2 separate regions of the Homo sapiens genome follow, and region 2 is linked to region 1. Evidence: fine-mapped expression QTL. Tissue or cell type: whole blood. Region 1 holds a variant in brackets; the other region holds the start of a gene. All regions are shown on one strand. Distances are from middle to middle.

Evidence for each region. PIP is the estimated chance that this variant, and not a neighbour inherited with it, causes the effect.
Region 2: it holds the start of PRKD2, and the variant in region 1 is fine-mapped to the expression of PRKD2 in whole blood (TOPMed, PIP above 0.99).

The regions. Positions count from the first base shown.
Region 1 is chr19:46,761,793-46,769,890 of GRCh38, forward strand. No RefSeq gene overlaps it. Among named protein-coding and RNA genes, the nearest start is that of STRN4, 19 kb to the left of the region's middle. The variant G/A (reference allele first, on the strand shown) is at 4,519.
Region 2 is chr19:46,712,889-46,720,973 of GRCh38, forward strand. It overlaps PRKD2 (protein kinase D2), which reads right to left and starts at 4,226. Exons shown (of 18, transcript NM_016457.5): 1 at 3,243-4,226; 2 at 975-1,113. The coding sequence starts at 3,482. STRN4 (striatin 4) reads right to left here. Exons shown (of 18, transcript NM_013403.3): 17 at 7,648-7,883; 18 at 6,623-7,450. The coding sequence ends at 7,714. LOC107987269 reads right to left here and starts at 6,834. Exons shown (of 4, transcript XM_017027568.2): 1 at 5,758-6,834; 2 at 5,465-5,614; 3 at 4,911-5,088; 4 at 3,646-4,289. The coding sequence starts at 6,175. The coding sequence ends at 3,923. RefSeq lists silencers at 1,241-1,470, 4,122-4,171, 4,192-4,351 and enhancers at 1,661-1,960, 5,472-5,521.

The sequences.
Region 1 (8,098 bases):
AAGTTACTATGTTCTTATTTCTCCTTTTTATTACATTTAGGGCAATCAAGGATCGTTTTTGTTGCTGCTGCTGTTGTTGTTGTTTCTGAGACAGGGTCTCACTCTGTCACCCAGGCTGCAGTGCAGTGGCACAGTCTTGGCTCACTGCAGCCTCAACTTCCCAGGCTCAGGCGATTCTCCCACCTCAGCCTCCCGAGTAGCTGGGACTACAGATAAGTACTACCACACCCAGCTTTTATATATATATATATATAAATATATTTATATATATAATGTCTCTACTAAAAATACAAAAATTAGCTAGGTGCGGTGTCGCACGCCTGTAATGCCAGCAGTTTGGGAGGCCAAGGCGGATGGATTACTTGAGGTCAGGAGTTCGAGACCAGCCTGGCCAACATGGTGAAACCCCATCTCTACTAAAAATACGTGTGTGTGTGTGTGTGTGTGTGTGTGTGTGTGTATTTTAAGTAGAGATGGGGTTTCACCATGTTGCTCAGGCTGGTCTCAAATTCCTGGACTCGAGTGATCTGCCCACCTTGGCCTCCCAAAGTAGGATTTTCTTAAATCATGTTAAATCATGTGCCAGTGGGTTATACTGTCTATGAACTTCATTTCAGGAGAACAGAGAGAACTTTCCCAGAACTGACATTCAAGCCAGCACACGCCCTGGTATGGCCACGCCAGTGGTTAAGACAGCAAAACACTAAATTATGGATTATTTACTCATTCATAAACGGTCACTGCCATGAACCCCCTGACTATTAGTATCCTCCTAGCTCTCCCTGGGGATCCCCTGGGCTGCCCTCTGGCCCAGAAGTCCAGGGGTTAAACTGGGTATAGTGGGAGATAAGAGGGACCCATATCCCGGATGTTGGATGGACTGATGACTTTGCCAAGCAGTAAATATTTTGTCTATCAGCCCTACATGTTACAAAATATTTGCTATGAACAATAGTGGCATGTAAAGACCTGTCTACATTAGCCAGGTGTGGTGGCTAATGCCTGTAATCCCAACGCTTTGGAAGACCAAGGCTGGAGGATCACATGAGCCCAGGAGGTGGAGGCCACCCAGGGTAATATGTTGAGACCCTGTCTCTACCAAAAAAATTTAGGAGGGGCGAGTGGCTCATGCCTGTAATCCCAGCACTTTGGGAGGCTGAGGCGGGCAGATCACTTGAGGTCAGGAGTTTGAGACCAGCCCAGTCAACATGGTGAAACCACGTCTCTACTAAAAATACAAAAATTAGCCAGGTGTGGCGGCTCACACCTGTAATCCCAGCACTTTGGGAGGCCGAAGAGGGCGGATTACTTGAGGTCAGGAGTTCAAGACCAGCCTGAACAACATGGTGAAACCCCATCCCTACTAAAAATACAAAAATTAGCCGGGCGTGATGGTGGGTGCCTGTAATCCCAGCTACTCAGGAAGCTGAGGCAGGAGAATTGCTTGAACCTGGGAGGTGGAGGTTGCAGTGAGCCGAGATTGCACCACTGCACTCCAGCCTGGGCAACAGAGCAAGATTCTGTCTCAAAAATAAAATAAGGTAAATAAAAAATAAAAAACCTGTCTACAAATGCACCTTTATGCACAATAGCCCCAACCTGGAAACCATCAGATGTAAATCAACAGGTGGGTGGATAAGCAAACTGTGGTACACTCAGACAACATAATACTCCTTAGCAAGTTTTTTAAAAAAGGAAAGAACTGGGCCGGACGTGGTGGCTCACGCCTGTAATCCCAGCACTTTGGGAGGTCGAGGCGGGCCGATCACCTGAGGTCGGGAGTTCAAGACCAGCCTGACCAACATGGCAAAACCCTGTCTCTACTAAAAATACAAAATTAGCTGGGCATGGTGGCACATGCCTGTAATCCCAGCCACTTGGGAGGCCAAGGCAGGAGAATCACTTGAACTCGGGAGGCGGAGGTTGTAGTGAGCCGAGATTGTGCCATTGCACTCCAGTCTGGGCAACAAGAGTGAAACTCCATCTCAAAAAAAAAAAAAGAAAAGAAAAGAAAGAACAAACTACTGATACATGCAAAAATAAGAATAAATCCCAAAAGCATTATGACACATAAAAAAAAGCCAGATGCAAGACGCTACATAGTATATGATTCCACCAATGTAAAATTCTAGAAGAGGTAAAACTAATTCATAGTGACCAAAAGCAGATCAGTGGTTACCGGGGCCTGGAGCTGGAGAGAGGGGCAGACTGCAAAGAAGCATGAGGAAATTTGGGGATGATGAGAATATCATGTATCTTGATTATGGGAGTGGTTTTTCACAGTATATTCATCTGTCAAAACTCATTTAACTGTATTTTATTTATTTATTTATTTATTTTGAGACAGGGTCTCGCAGCATTGCTCAGGCTGGTCTCAAACTCCTGGGCTCAAGCGATCCTTCTGCCTCGGCCTCTCAAAGTGCTGGAATTACAGGCATGAGCCTGGCCTAATTGATTTTAACGGGTGCAATTTATCATATGAAACAATTTTTTTGGAGCCAGCCTTGCTCTGTTGCCCAGGCTAGAGTGCAGTGGTGCAGTCTTGGCTCACTGCAACCTCTACCTTCTGGATTCAAGTGATTCTCATGCCTCAGCCACCTGAGTAGCTGGGATTACAGGTGTGCACAACCACACCTGGTTAATTTTTGTATTTTTAGTGGAGATGGAGTTTCACCATGTTGGCCAGGCTGGTCTTGAACTCCTGGCCTCAAATGATTTGCCTTGACCTCCCAAAGTGCTAGGATTACAGGTGTGAGCCACCTTGCCCGGCCTATTGTATGTAAATTATACCTCAATAAAGTTGACCTCAAAAAGAGCAGATGGGGGCAGAATCCAACAGGCCTAAGAACATTGACCTGTCTCTAAGAGAGACAAAACTGAGTCACTGCCCTCTGCCTTTCTGTCCCCATACTGCCACTCTGAGCCTAGAACCCAGGACCAACCCTAATCCGGGGCCAGCCTGGGCCCTCCTTCCTGGGCCAAGCTCCTTCAAAGAGGCAAGAGGGGTGGGTGGGGCAATGGAGAAAGGGAGAGAAAGGTGGGAGCTGGGAACTGGGACCCAGGGAGTGACCGTCAAAGTGCCTTTTCTTCTGCTCTTACGTAACCTGCACTAGCAGCCTTTGGGTGAGGCATAAGAGAGCCATTGTCACCGGCGGGTGAGACCTGGCAGTGCTCATCCAAGGTCACATAGTTGCCAGGCAGCAGAGTCGAGACTGAACCAGCCTCTTCCACCATTCCACGAGTGTTTATTGAGCTCCTGCTATACGCATGCACCGGACCCTATGCTAGACTCTGAGCCTACAGCAGTGAACAATTCAAAGATGGTTCCCCCACAGAGTGACCTTCCCAGTGGGGACAGGCAGGAAACAATAAACATCATAAACCAGTGAATTCTATCGTCTGTTGGGAGGGGACTGTTGCTATTAAAAAAGGAGAACAGGGCAGGGCACGGTGGTTCACAACTATAATCCCAGCACTTTGGGAGGCGTAGGTGGGAGGATCCTTTCAGCCCAGGAGTTCAAAACCAGCCTGGACAACATACAGAGACTGTGTCGCTACAAAAAACAAAAATTAAGAAAAAAAAATAGCTGGGCAGGGTAGCATGGGCCTATAGTCCCAGCTACTTAGGAGGCTGAGGTGGGAGTGTCACTTGAGCCTGGGAGGTCAAAGCTGAAATGAGCTGTGATCATGAAACTGCATTCCAGCCTGGGCAACAGAGCAAGACCCTGTCTTTAAAAAAAAAAAAAAAAAGTAGAGCAGGCCTGGCGTGGTGGCTTATGCCTGTAATCCCAGTACTTTGGGAGGCCGAGGTGGGAGGATTGCTTGAGCTCAGGAGTATGAGCCTGGCCAGCCTGGGCCATAGAGCAAGACCCCATCTCTGTTTGTTTGTTTGTTTGTTTGTTTGTTTGTGACAGGGTCTATCTCTGTCTCCCAGGCTGGAGTGCAGTGGCGCGATCTTGGCTCACTGCAACCTCTGCCTCCCGGGTTCAACAATTCTCATGCCTCAGCCTCCCGAGTAGCTGGGATAACAGGCGCCCGCCACTACACCCAGCTAATCTTTGTATTTTTAGTAGAGACAGGTTTTTGCCACATCTCTCGAACTCCTGACAGCGAGTGATCCACCTGTCTCGGTCTCCTAAAGAGCTGGGATTACAGGCGTGTACCACGACACCTGGCTAATTTTTGTATTTGTAGTAGAGACAGGGTTTCGCCATGTTGGCCAGGCCGGTCTTGAACTCCTGGCATCAAGTGATCTGCCTGCCTCAGCCTCCCTAAGTGCACAGATTACAGGCATGAGCCACTGCGTCTGCCCAAGACCCCATCTCTTAATAAAAAAAAAAAAAAAAAAAAAAAAAAAGAGGAAAAGGGCTGGGCGTGGTGGCTCACGCCTGTAATCCCAGAACTTTGGGAGGCCTGAGGTGGGCAGATCACGAGGTCAGGAGATCGAGACTATCCTGGCTAACATGGTGAAACCCCCGTCTCTACTAAAAATACAAAAAAAAAAAAAAAAAAAGCCGG[G/A]TGTGGTGGCGGGCGCCTGTAGTCCCAGCTACTCGGGAGGCTGAGGCAGGAGAATGGCGTGAACCCGGGAGGCGGAGCTTGCAATGAGCCGAGATCGTGCCACTGCACTCCAGCCTGGGCGACAGAGCGAGACTCCGTCTCAGAAAAAAAAAAAAAAAGAGAAAAGGGTAGAATAGGGTATGGGTTGGGTGGGTGAGGGTGGGGGCAGGAAGCAGGGGTGGTAGAATTAAATAAAGCGGTCAGAGAAGGCTCACTGAGGTGACATTGCAGCCAAGTCGAGAGGGAGGTGTGGGAAGAGCCAAATGGAAATCTGGGGGGCAGAGCAGCCAAGAGAGGAACAGCCTGTGCAAAGGCCCTGAGGCACCAGCAGGCCTGGCATGTTCAAGGAATGGCAGAGGCTGGAGTAAGAGAGGGAGGAGGAGAGTGGGAAGAGGTGAGGTCGGTGAAGTAAGGCGCATCCTACAGAGGCTATGGGGAGCACCTTGGATTTTTCTCTGGGTTCTGAGCTGCGGAGGGCCACGAGCTGCCATGATGGAAACAGGCGCCCTCTGGAGGCCATATGGGGAACAGACGGAAGAGGTTGGGGCTCAGGAGTCCCGGCGTGAAGGCAATTGCAATAGTTCAGGTGGGAGATGATGGCAGCTGGCCAGGGTGGTACCCAGTGTGGAAGGTGTAGAGGGGCCAGATTTGGGGTTTGAGGGCAGAGAAACTGAGATTTCTGGTAGCTTGAATGTGGGATATGACGGGCAGAAGGAGGGCGTAGCAGGGGAAGGAAATAAAGTGGCTTGTTCTGTATGTGACTGGAGCCCAGCTCCTTGCACCAACCCGGGCTCCTGCACCCCTCAGCAGGCCCAGGGATCCCCACCGCCAGGCCGGAGCCAACCCCATGGAACCCAAAGTGCTCAAGCTCCCCAGTGAATGAGGCTCTTAATGTATCACCGCCCGTCAGGCCTGGCCTGGCATCCGGGTTTCTCCACCTGCGGGGTGCAGGGGCCACATTGGTGGGTTCCAGATTCCAAGTTCCAGTATTTGGAGGAGGTGGCAGAGGAGGGCCCCCACCCCACCGTTTTCATCTTTCACCCAAGATTTGCACAGGTTTCATTTTAATGACAGTCCACTGTCTGTTTGTTAGTTAGCTTTGAGATAGAGTCTCACTCTGTTGCCCAGGCTGGAGTGCGGTGGCAAGATCTCAGCTCACTGCAACCTCCGCCTCCTGGGCTCAAGCGATTCTCCCACCTCAGGCTCCTGAGTAGCTGAAACTACAAATGTCCAGATAATTTTTTACATTTTTAGTAGAGACGGGGTTCCACTATGTTGGCCAAGCTGGTCTCAAACTACTAACCTGAGATGATCCACCTGCTTCGGCCTCCCAAAGTGCTGGGATTACAGGCATGAGCCACTGCGCCCAGCCACCCAGCCACTGGTTTTAAAAAATGTTTGACACTGGGCACAGTGGCTCATGCCTGTAATCCCAGCACCTTGGGAGGCTGAGGTGGGTGGATCACCTGAGGTCAGGAGTTGGAGACCATCCTGGCCAACATGGTGAAACCCCATCTCTACTAAAAAAAAAAATACAAAAATTAGCCGGGCGTGGTGGCAGGCACCTGTAATCCCAGCTATTCGGGAGGCTGAGGCAGGAGAATCGCTTGAACCCGGGAAGTGGAGGTTGCAGTGAGCTGAGATCACATCATTGCACTCCAGCCTGGGGGACAAGAGCGAGACTTCATCTCAAAAAAAAAAAAAAAAAAAAAGCAGTGGCTGGGTGCAGTGGTGCATGCCTGTAATCCCAACACTTTGGCCTGGGAGTTCCAGACCAGCCTGGGCAACATAGTGAGATCCCTTGTTTACAAAACAAAACAAAACAAAAACAAAAACCTTTTCTAATTAAAAATAGCTGGGCATGGCCAGGCACAGTGGTGGCTCACTCCTGTAATCCCAGCACTTTGGGAGGCTGAGGCAAATCACCTGCGGTCGGGATTTCGGGACCAGCCTGGCCAACATGACAAAACCCCGTCTCTACAAAAAATACAAAAATTAGCCAGGCCTGGTGGCAGGTGCCTGTGTGGGGAAAAGAAAAAGAGAGATCAGACTGTTACTGTGTCTATGTAGAAAAGCAAGATATAAGAAACTCCATTTTGATCTGTACTAAGAAAAAATTGTTTCTGCTTTGAGATGCTGTTAACCTGTAACTTTAGCCACAACCCTGTGCTCACAGAAACATGTGCTGTAAGGAATCAAAGTTTAATGGATTTAGGGCTGTGCAGGATGTGCCTTGTTAACAATATGTTTGCAGGCAGTATGCTTGGTAAAAGTCATCGCCATTCTCCATTCTCTATTAACCAGGGGCACAATGCACTGCAGAAAGCCGCAGGGACGTCTGCCCAAGAAAGCCTGGGTATTGTCCAGGGTTTCCCCCGACTGAGACAGCCTGGGATATGGCCTCATGGGAAGGGAAAGACCTGACTGTCCCTCAGCCTGACACCTGTAAAGGGTCTGTGCTGAGGAGGAGTAGTGAGAGAGGGAGGCCTCTTTGCAGTTGAGATAAGAGGAAGGCTTCTGTCTCCTGCTCGTCCCTGGGAATGGAATGTCTCGATGTAAAGCTGACCATTCCCATTCGTTCTATTCTGAGCTAGGACAAAACCTCCCTGTGGCTGGAGGCGAGATATGCTGGCAGCAATACTGCTCTGTTGCCCTTTGCTACACTGAGATGTTTGGGTAAAGAGAAACATAAATCTAGCCTACTGCACATCCAGGCACAGTACCTTTCCTTGAACTTACTCATGATACAGATTCCTTTGCTCACATGTTTCCCTGCTGACCTTCTCCTCACCTGTTGCCCTGCTACACTCCCCTCGCTAAGATAGTAAAAATAATGATCAATAAATACTGAGGGAACTCAGAGGCTGGCGCCAGTACAGGTCCTCCGTATGCTGAGCGCCGGTCCCCTGGGCCCACTGTTCTCTCTCTATACTTTGTCTCTGTGTCTTATTTCTTTTCTCAGTCTCTCGTCCCACCTGACGAGAAATACCCATAGGTGTGGAGGGGCTGGTCCCCTTCATGCCTGTAATCCCAGTTACCGAGGAGGCTGAGGCAGGAGGATTGCTTGAATCTGGGAGGCAGAGATTGCAGTGAGCTGAGATCATGCCACTGCACTCCACCCTGGGGACAGAGTAAGATTCTGTCTTAAAAAAAAAATAGCTGGGCATGGTGGTGCATGCCTGTGGTCCTAGCTACTCGGGAGGCTGAGGTGGGAGGATCGATTGAGCTCAGGAGTCTGAGGCTACAGTGAGACATAATCACACCACTACATTCCAGCCTGCGAGACAGAGCAAGGTCTCAAATCTTTAAAAATATTTTTTTTTTTTAGAAAAAGTTTGAGCCAGGCGCAATGGTTCACACTTGTAATCCCAACAGTTTCGGAGGCTGAGGCAGGCGAATCACCTGAGGTCGGGAGTTCAAGCCCAGGCTGGCCAACATAGTGAAACCCCATCTCTACTAAAAATACAAAAACTTAGCTGGGCATGTTGGCACACACCTGTAATCCCAGCTACTTGGGAGGCTGAGACAGGAGAATTGCTTG
Region 2 (8,085 bases), 49 kb before region 1:
TTAGAAAATCACCTGGGGGCTTTTAAAAATACTGATGTGCAGATTCCATCTCACTTTGCAGAGATTCTGATTTAATTTAGCATTTTCGTGGCAGGAGCCATGGACATCATAACTTTTTTTTTTCTTTTTCTACTTTTTTTCTTTTTTAGAGATAGGGTCTCTCTCTGTTGCCCAGGCTGGAGTGCAGTGACATGATCGTGGCTCACTGCAGCCTCAAACTCCTAAGCTCAAGAAATCCTCCCACCTCAGCCTCCCAAGTAGCTGAGACTACAGACGTGTGCCACCTCGCCCGGTTAACTTTTTTTTTTTTTTTTTTTTTTAAGAGATGGGGTCTCCTTATGTTGCCCAGGCTGGTCTCAAACTCCTGGGCTCCAGCGATCCTCCCACCTCAGCCTCCCAAACTGCTGGGATTACAGGTGTGAGCCACTGCAGCTGGCCCATTTTTTACCTTTATATTTAAGCATAACACAGTCAGTTACAGATCCAACTCCTTCTTCTCCTCTTTTCCCCCTTCTAACTACTGCACTTGACTAGTTTTATAAATAAATAAGTATAACATATGTTCAGGAAAGGCCGCACATCACAAGTGCACAGCTCAATGAATTTTCAAACTGTACAAAGCGTGTCACTAGCATCCTAATCCATAAATGAAAGTTTAGACCAGTCCCTAAAGAGCGCCTTCATGACCCCACTCTGTAACCATCTTCCAGAAGCCCCCAACTCTCCTTATTTTTTTTTTTCAGAGGGAGAGAAAGGGGTAGAGATGGAATCTCACTATGTTGCCCAGGCTGATCTCGAACTCCTGGGCTCAAGCGATCCCCCCAGCTCCAGCTCAGCCTCCCAAAGTGCTGGGATCACAGGCGTGAGCCACTACACCCGGCCTCTCCTGACTTCTAACTCCCCCTACCCTCTCCTCCCCCAGATGCCCCGCCCCCACCCGAGGCCCCGCCCCCAGGCCGGCCACCACCTCTCACCCGACAGCACCACCTCCACCAGGTCGCCCTCCTGGATGTCTCCGGACGAGCGCACCAGCTGCAGGAGGTTGGCCGACGTGGGGTCATGTTTGAAAAGCAGGATCTTGTCGTAAAGGCCGTAGAAGCCACACTCAGGGAACTGAGGGGCGGGAGAGGGATGTGGCGACGGAAAAGCTCAGAGCCGCCTTCAGCAGCGGGCGGACTGTGACCCTCCCAGGGCAGGGCCGGCTGTTTCCCCCGGAAACGCAGAGACCCCGCAGGCCCTCGCTTCCTGCCTGCCCCCTCCCAACCCCAGCGCGAGCCGGGCAGGATGCCAGCGCCCCAATTGTACGGGGAGGGGGCGCCGGCGTGGGTTTGGTGGCTGGAAGGGGGAGCTGGGGTGGGAGGGAGAGTGGCTCCGGGAGCGTGGACACCTCGAATTTTCCGGAACCTGGCGGAGGTGGGAGGGGATGCTGAATGAACACTCCCTCCCCTGTGCCTCCTCCCCAGGCTCACACACCCGCCCCCCAGCTTCCTTCCTGGATCTGTCTATTGTTGTCCCAGTTACCTGGCTCCAGGCCCAGCACTGGGGTGGGGCGAGCTGGAAGGAGGACTTTTCGGGGCTCCTGGGAAAGTGGGGGGGGGGGCCGGGGGACTTGGACTCGAGGGCGCTGGAGATAAGGAGGGCGCCTGCCACCCAATGCTCAAAGGACCCAGGTGTCTGGGTCCTCAGCTTTGGGGGCCTGGGGGCAGGAAATGAAACCTAGTAGAACAGAAAGTGAAACTGCCCCGGTGGGGCCTCGGGAAGGAAGGTAAGCGGCCCTAACACACCTGGACCTGGCAGAAAAATAAAACTGGGGTGAAGCCTGAGCGGGGCAGGCTGGGGACTTGAGCACTGGACAAAGAAGTTCACCCAAGGGACAATCTGCCCCCGTACCCCCACTGCCACCAGCTTCCCATGAAGTGGGCTGAGTTGGGGTGGTGAGCTGGGCCTGCGGGATTGAGGCATTTGGTGGGCAAAACCCTATCAGTTCTCACTGCTAAGAGAGAGTCCACAGAAGACCAGGACTGCCTTGGCCCTGACCCCTTGGGAAGTTTTTCTCTAAGCTTCAGTTTCCTTGTCTGTAGAATGGGGGAGCTGGCCCAGTTCCCCACGTTTCTCTGATGCCCAAAGGATTCATTTCCAGGAGTCTGAAAAGATTCTGGAATTTGGATATTTTGGGACTCCAACATGCTCACATTATAGAATTATACATTCTAGATTCCTACCTGGTATCACTATACATTTTAGGATTTCAATAACCTAAATAAGCGGTAATCTAATATTTTAATATTCTAGGAGTCTGACAAGCTAGGACTGTGCTCTTTGAATTCTTTAGCATTCAAGGACCTCATCCATCCAGCATTCTAAAATTCTAACATTTTAACTTTCTAGGATTCAACAATCTAGGAATCTAATATTCCAGCATTTTAATGTTTTACTATTTCACAAACCTAGAATTCTAATATTTGAACACGAACATGGGGGCAATTTAATTGCCTAGGATGCATATTCCAACAAGTTATGATTCTAATATTCTAACATTTCTACAGTCCAGTACTCCAACACAGAAGCCCACTATTCTTTTAACATTTCACGGTTTAGACGTGGAGTTCCACCTGGTTTCCTCTTGCCATAACACCCAGCTGCCCACCCTGGGGACCCTGGTGTCCAAAATTAAGAGTAGGCTAACAGCACTGTGACTAGGAAAGGGAATAGAGTCCCCAGGGTCTGTAGGAGTGCCTGCCCCTCCACACATATCTCAGGCTTAGGGGAGGGCAGAATTGGGCTCCGAGACCTCACTTGCCCCTGGCAGCTAACTCAAGCACCTGCACCCACACATGTCACCGGATCACCATGGCCAGCCCGGGTTCAATTTCTCCTGTTTCCACCAAATGGGAGGCCCGGGATGGGCCTGGACGTGGAGGTCCGCCGACATCTGCTGCCCCTTCCTCCCCTCTCTACACCTGGCTGGCCCCTCCCTTCCTCCCTGTTTGCTGCAGAAAACAACGACATGCAGGGACATGAAATTTGGGGAGGCCTCTGGGGCACCCCACCCCTGCCCAGTCCTCTCTCAAAGGGATGGTGGGGAGAGGGGCAATGGAGGGGGGCAATGCCCCCTATCCCTCCATCACCCAAAGCTCAGGTCTCCTTCCTCCCTCTTCCGCACACCAGGCCCCAGACCCCTCTGCCAGCGCCCCCTCCTTCAACCTCTCCCCGAGCTGGATCCAGGGAGCCTGCGCCCTCACCTTCTGGTCCACGATGGAACAGGCCAGCTGCTTCACATGAGCCAGCTCGGAGGCGGCGGGCAACAGCACGAACTCGCGGGTCAGCCCGATCTGGATGTGAAAGGAGACCCCGGAACCCGGGGCCGGGATCTGGGGCAGTAGCGGTGGCGGCGACTGCAGCTCTAGGCCGCCGGGGGGCGGAGGAGACCCCGGCCCGGGAGAGCCAGGGAGCCCGGCGGGATAAGAGGGGGCGGTGGCCATGGGGGGAGGCCGGGGACCGGCCGCCTGGAGCCCACCCGGGACCCGGCCGGGGGGCCCCGGGGGACCCTGGGTTCTAGATCCGCGGGATCTCGTGAGCAGGTGGTGGGAGAGCGGGGATCCGAGAAAAGATCTGGCAGGCGGAGGGGACCTGAGGATGGCGGGGTCCTGGGAAGGAGAGAAAGGCACTATAGTGGGTCAGAGGCCCGGAATCCAGGGCTCCCAGAAGATCAGAAAGGAGAAAAGTAGTGGGTTGGAGGTCCCAGCGATTGAGATTCCAAGAAGCCTGAGAGGAAATCTAGTAGGTCGGGGTCACAGGGATCAGGAGAGCCCGCGATTCAAAGGCCCCTTCCCTAGAGGAGGGATTGAGAAGGGGGCAGAGGGAATCCCAGGATCCAGTGCTCCAAGAAGAGGATCCCACTCAGAAGGCGGCCCGGGGGAATTCACCTTGGGGGTGGAGGGCAGGAGTCTCTGAGTCGGGGACCGAGTGGATTCCAGAGATAAAGGGGTTCGCAGGGACCCGACCGGCCAGGGGATGGGCAGAGGGGTCCCGAGGGCCGGAGTGGGTAGAAGGGAATCTCACGAGTCGCAGAAGTTGGAGAAAAGTTCGGTCGGGAGCCGTGAGGAAGGGGGCGTTGCCGGAGCGGGGTTGGGTGGGGGGCAGGGAGGGTCGCCAGGCGCCAGTAGCTCTTTTTCCCCCTCCAAAGTTTAAGTCGGCGGCGGCGGCGGCGGCCCAGGAGGAAGTGTCCGGAGCGACAGTGCAGTCGACCAATCGGCGCGGGCCTCGGCGACGTCAGAGAGGGGCGGAGCCTGCCGAGGGGCCGGGGGCGGAAGGGGAGGGTGGGCCCGGGGCCTCCGAGTTGGGGGCTGGACCTCCGCCTCCAGGGTCCGGGACAAGGGATGGTGTGAGGGATGGAGGGCAGGCAGGCGAGACCAGTTCCTTCCCTGAACACAGCCAAGCCTGGAAAGTTAACTTTTCCCTCGGCTGGACAGGGAGGGGAAACACTATCACCCACCGCCGGTCGCAGGCGTCGGGCTTGGAGGCCACTGGCCCTTTAAGGAGGGGAGCCCTCTCCGGCAGGCGTCCGGCGCCCATGGCAGGGGACGGGTGGGAAATCGGTATCAGGTCCCGGCCCGCTCTCTGGGTTCGGCCTCTCTGTTCTCCGAGCGTCACCCCTGCCCTCCCCGCCGCGTCCCAGCCCAGGGAAGGGGGTGCTGCAGAGCGTCCCCCGGCCCCAGCCCATTTAACACATGGAAAGACCGAGGCCTCCAGATGGGTAGGAAGGGGCTCGCCTTAGGTCTGTCTCCAGCGATGGTGGGCAAGGTGCATGGCGCTAACTGGATGGGTGGGGAGGGTCCATCCCCCCGCCCACCCCAACCCCGCCTTAGGATAGTGTGGGGCTGCCCCGAGGGAGGACAGCACACCCATACCACTTCATAGATGCAGAGTGTGTCTCCTGGGGATGTGGAGTACGTGTGCGTGTCTTTCTCTCCATGTGACTTTGGGTGAGTGGCTTCTCTGTGAGCCTCAGTCCCTCCATCTGTTGGGACTGTAATAGGACTGACCCCACATGGGATGGTGGGAGCCGATGCCATGGTATACTGGTGCCTGGAAACGCAGCAGTTCAGTAAGAGGTGGTTGTCTCTGATAATACGCGGAAAGGGGTGGCCACCTCCAGCACTCAGGCTTTGATGGGTGGGCACACCCATTCAGTCACCCAGCAAGTATCTGTGAGGACCTACTGGGTGCTGGGTGGGCCCTGCTGTAAAACTCCAGCCGCTACAGGGGTCAGGCTTGATCTCTCCTCCCCAGCTAATAATCAAATAGTGGCTACCATTTAGTTTACACAGAATAAGCTGAAGCCTCAGAGAAGCAAAACGTCTTGCCCAAGATCCCAGAGTGAAGTTGCTTGAGGGAAGCTGCCCCACCCACCCCTTTGATTGACAAGTCAAGGCCTAGGTTTGAGCTCTAAGAGAAGGGCCACCTGTCTGGCTGGGATGCTGGCAGGACTGGAAATGGCAGGGCTGGCTGAGGATGGGGGCTGCCAGAAGAGCCCCTCTTCCTGGTGTACGGCCGTTGGGGGTAGCTGAGGTCGGTACAGTATCGATTCTGTCACCACATCCGGGGGCTGGGGCTGAGGAAGGAAGTCTGAGGCTGGAGTGAAAACCCAAACCACCACCTGGGGAACTGCATTGAGCCCAGAGGGATGGGCAGGGAGCACACCACGTGGAGCCCACGAAGGCTCCCCTTGGCGTCATCTAAGGGCCTCCTGCCCACCTGCACCCTTTTTCCTGAAGGGCAGATGACTGTCCCAGCAAAACGCTGCCATGTCCTGAGTGTCCAGACAGCGGCCTCCATCCTTTCTCGTATGTTCACTGGGGCCTGCTGGGGGACTGGGGCACAGCCCTTTACAACCCAGGAACTGGGCATTAGTGCCCTGTGGCAGAGGTGCTAGGATTACCGAGGACGCCTGGCTGGTAGGTGGTGGAAGCCTCCTCGAGACAGGAGCAGCGGTCCCCTCCGTCTCATCTGGAGCATGTGGACACCTGCTCCCTCTTTTTAAGGCTGTGGACCCAGTGAAATGCCATGTAAAGCACTCAGTACAGTAGACGTGGACCACTGAGAAGGGAAAGGAGGGACGCATCAGGACATGAGCCACGAGGGCTCGGGCACCTGCGGCACCTCCTCCCAGCATGGAGGAGCCTGCGCCCCAAAGCCATCATCCTCCACTGGCAGGTGCAGCCTTTTCCCTCCCTGCTCCTTGTGGGCCTGGGATGGGAACAGGAAGGGGGTTTACGTCCTCTGGGCACCAGCCCTTTGGCCTCGCCACCACCCTCACACATCCCAGGCGGGGCTGAGGCTTCAGCTGGACTGTCATCATAGTATCTGCTCCCCAGGGCTCTACCCCTGGGGAGGGAGCACTTAGGGACAGAAAGGGCACAAGGAGATTCGGTCCAGTGCCTCCACTTCTCTCCACCCACACCCCACCCAAGCTCTGGGCCCGTCTCCGGCCCCTGCTGCCCTACCACAAAACCCCAACCCATCATATCCCCTCTCTCCAAACTCCACCCAACCCAGGCAGAGCCGGTCACTCCTCCCCCAAAGTCCCCAGTGCCCTCAACAGATGGCACCGTCACCCATCTTACTCCAAAGGGTTTATTGAGACAAGTTTTCACATACAAGATGGGGACAGAGGGGTTGGGGCTTATAAACAGGAACCTGGAAGGGGACCGAGGGTGCAGGGTAGAACCAAACAAGAGAGTGAAATAAATAGAGGGAAAGAGTGGAGACAGGGAGGAGACTGACTGAGACCATCACACAGTGATAATGCGGGTGGGGCGGCGCCATGAAAATCCCGTTATTTATACAGATATACAGGGAGTTCAGGGGGACCCGAGGCCCACTCCACCCTCCATGCCCCAGGGAGGGGCACAAGAAAGCCGTCTCTACCCATGGGCGACCCCATGGGGCGCTGGGAGGGCTGCCCTAGGAGTGTTGGGCAATCCCTGGCCTGGAAGCCTTGGTTAGTGTCTGGAAAGCAGTGGAGAGGGCCGGAGGGGAGGGGCAGCCAGGCCGGGGCTCAGCTCTGAGGCTCCCGGCTGCCACCCTTTCTCCCAGCACAGCTCCTGCCCAGGTCTGGGAGGATGGGGGATGGGGGAGCAGGAGCTCAAGGGGAGAACCTGGCACCTTCTGGAGTCTTGGAAAAACTGATCCCTAAAGACACCCGGCCCTGGCTGTGCTGCCCTCTGGAAAGCAGCTCTGATACCAGGAGCGGCTGTCAGGGCACAGGGGGAAACCCCGAGGCCATCCTCGGGGGTGATTCCTGAAAGGGGCCCATCCCCAGGCTGGATGCTTGGGGAAGGCAGCCGTTGGGGAGGGATTCCTGGGGAAAGGGCCGTTAGCACCACCAGGCTCCATGGCAAACAGACAGAGGCCAGGCCTCTGCACCTCCAGCGAGGCTGGGAGTCCCCTGCGGGAAAGAGAAGGGAGGGGAGACTGAGCCGCCGCCTCTAGGGCGCCTCTAAGGCCTCAACCCCTCCCCTGCATGCCCAGGGCTCCCCCAGTGATTCTCACAGGACGCCCCTGACTGGACTGCGGGGCTCAGCACACCTGGCAGTACTAGGCATGGGCGTGCAGAGACTCAGAATGCGGGGTTTCTGCCCTCACCTCAGCCCCACCTGCCCGGCCCTACACCCCAGCCAGCGTGGCGGCCAGGGCAGGGCCAGGTGGGCATCATACGAAGACCTTGGCCAGGGCATCAGCGCCAGCACTGGCAATGAGGGCCTTGCTGGGGTGGCAGGCAACAGCGTGGATGGCCTCCTCGTGCTTCTTGCGGTGGGCCGTGATCTCCTGCACGCACGTTTTGTTGTCCAGGCTCCAGAGACGCAGGGAGCAGTCATGGCCTGCACATGTGTCGGGGACAGAAGGGGTGGTCACTGGGCTCCTCGCTCAGACGCAGCCCTGGAACCCCTCACCTGGCCTTGTCCAAAGGCCTCAGGGGAAGTGGGGCTCAACTCTCCTCTCTCACCCTCTGCTCATCACCTCCTGTGGCCCGCCCAAAGGAGAACCCTGGTCCCCTCCTGTCCACAGTCCATCTCATCCCCC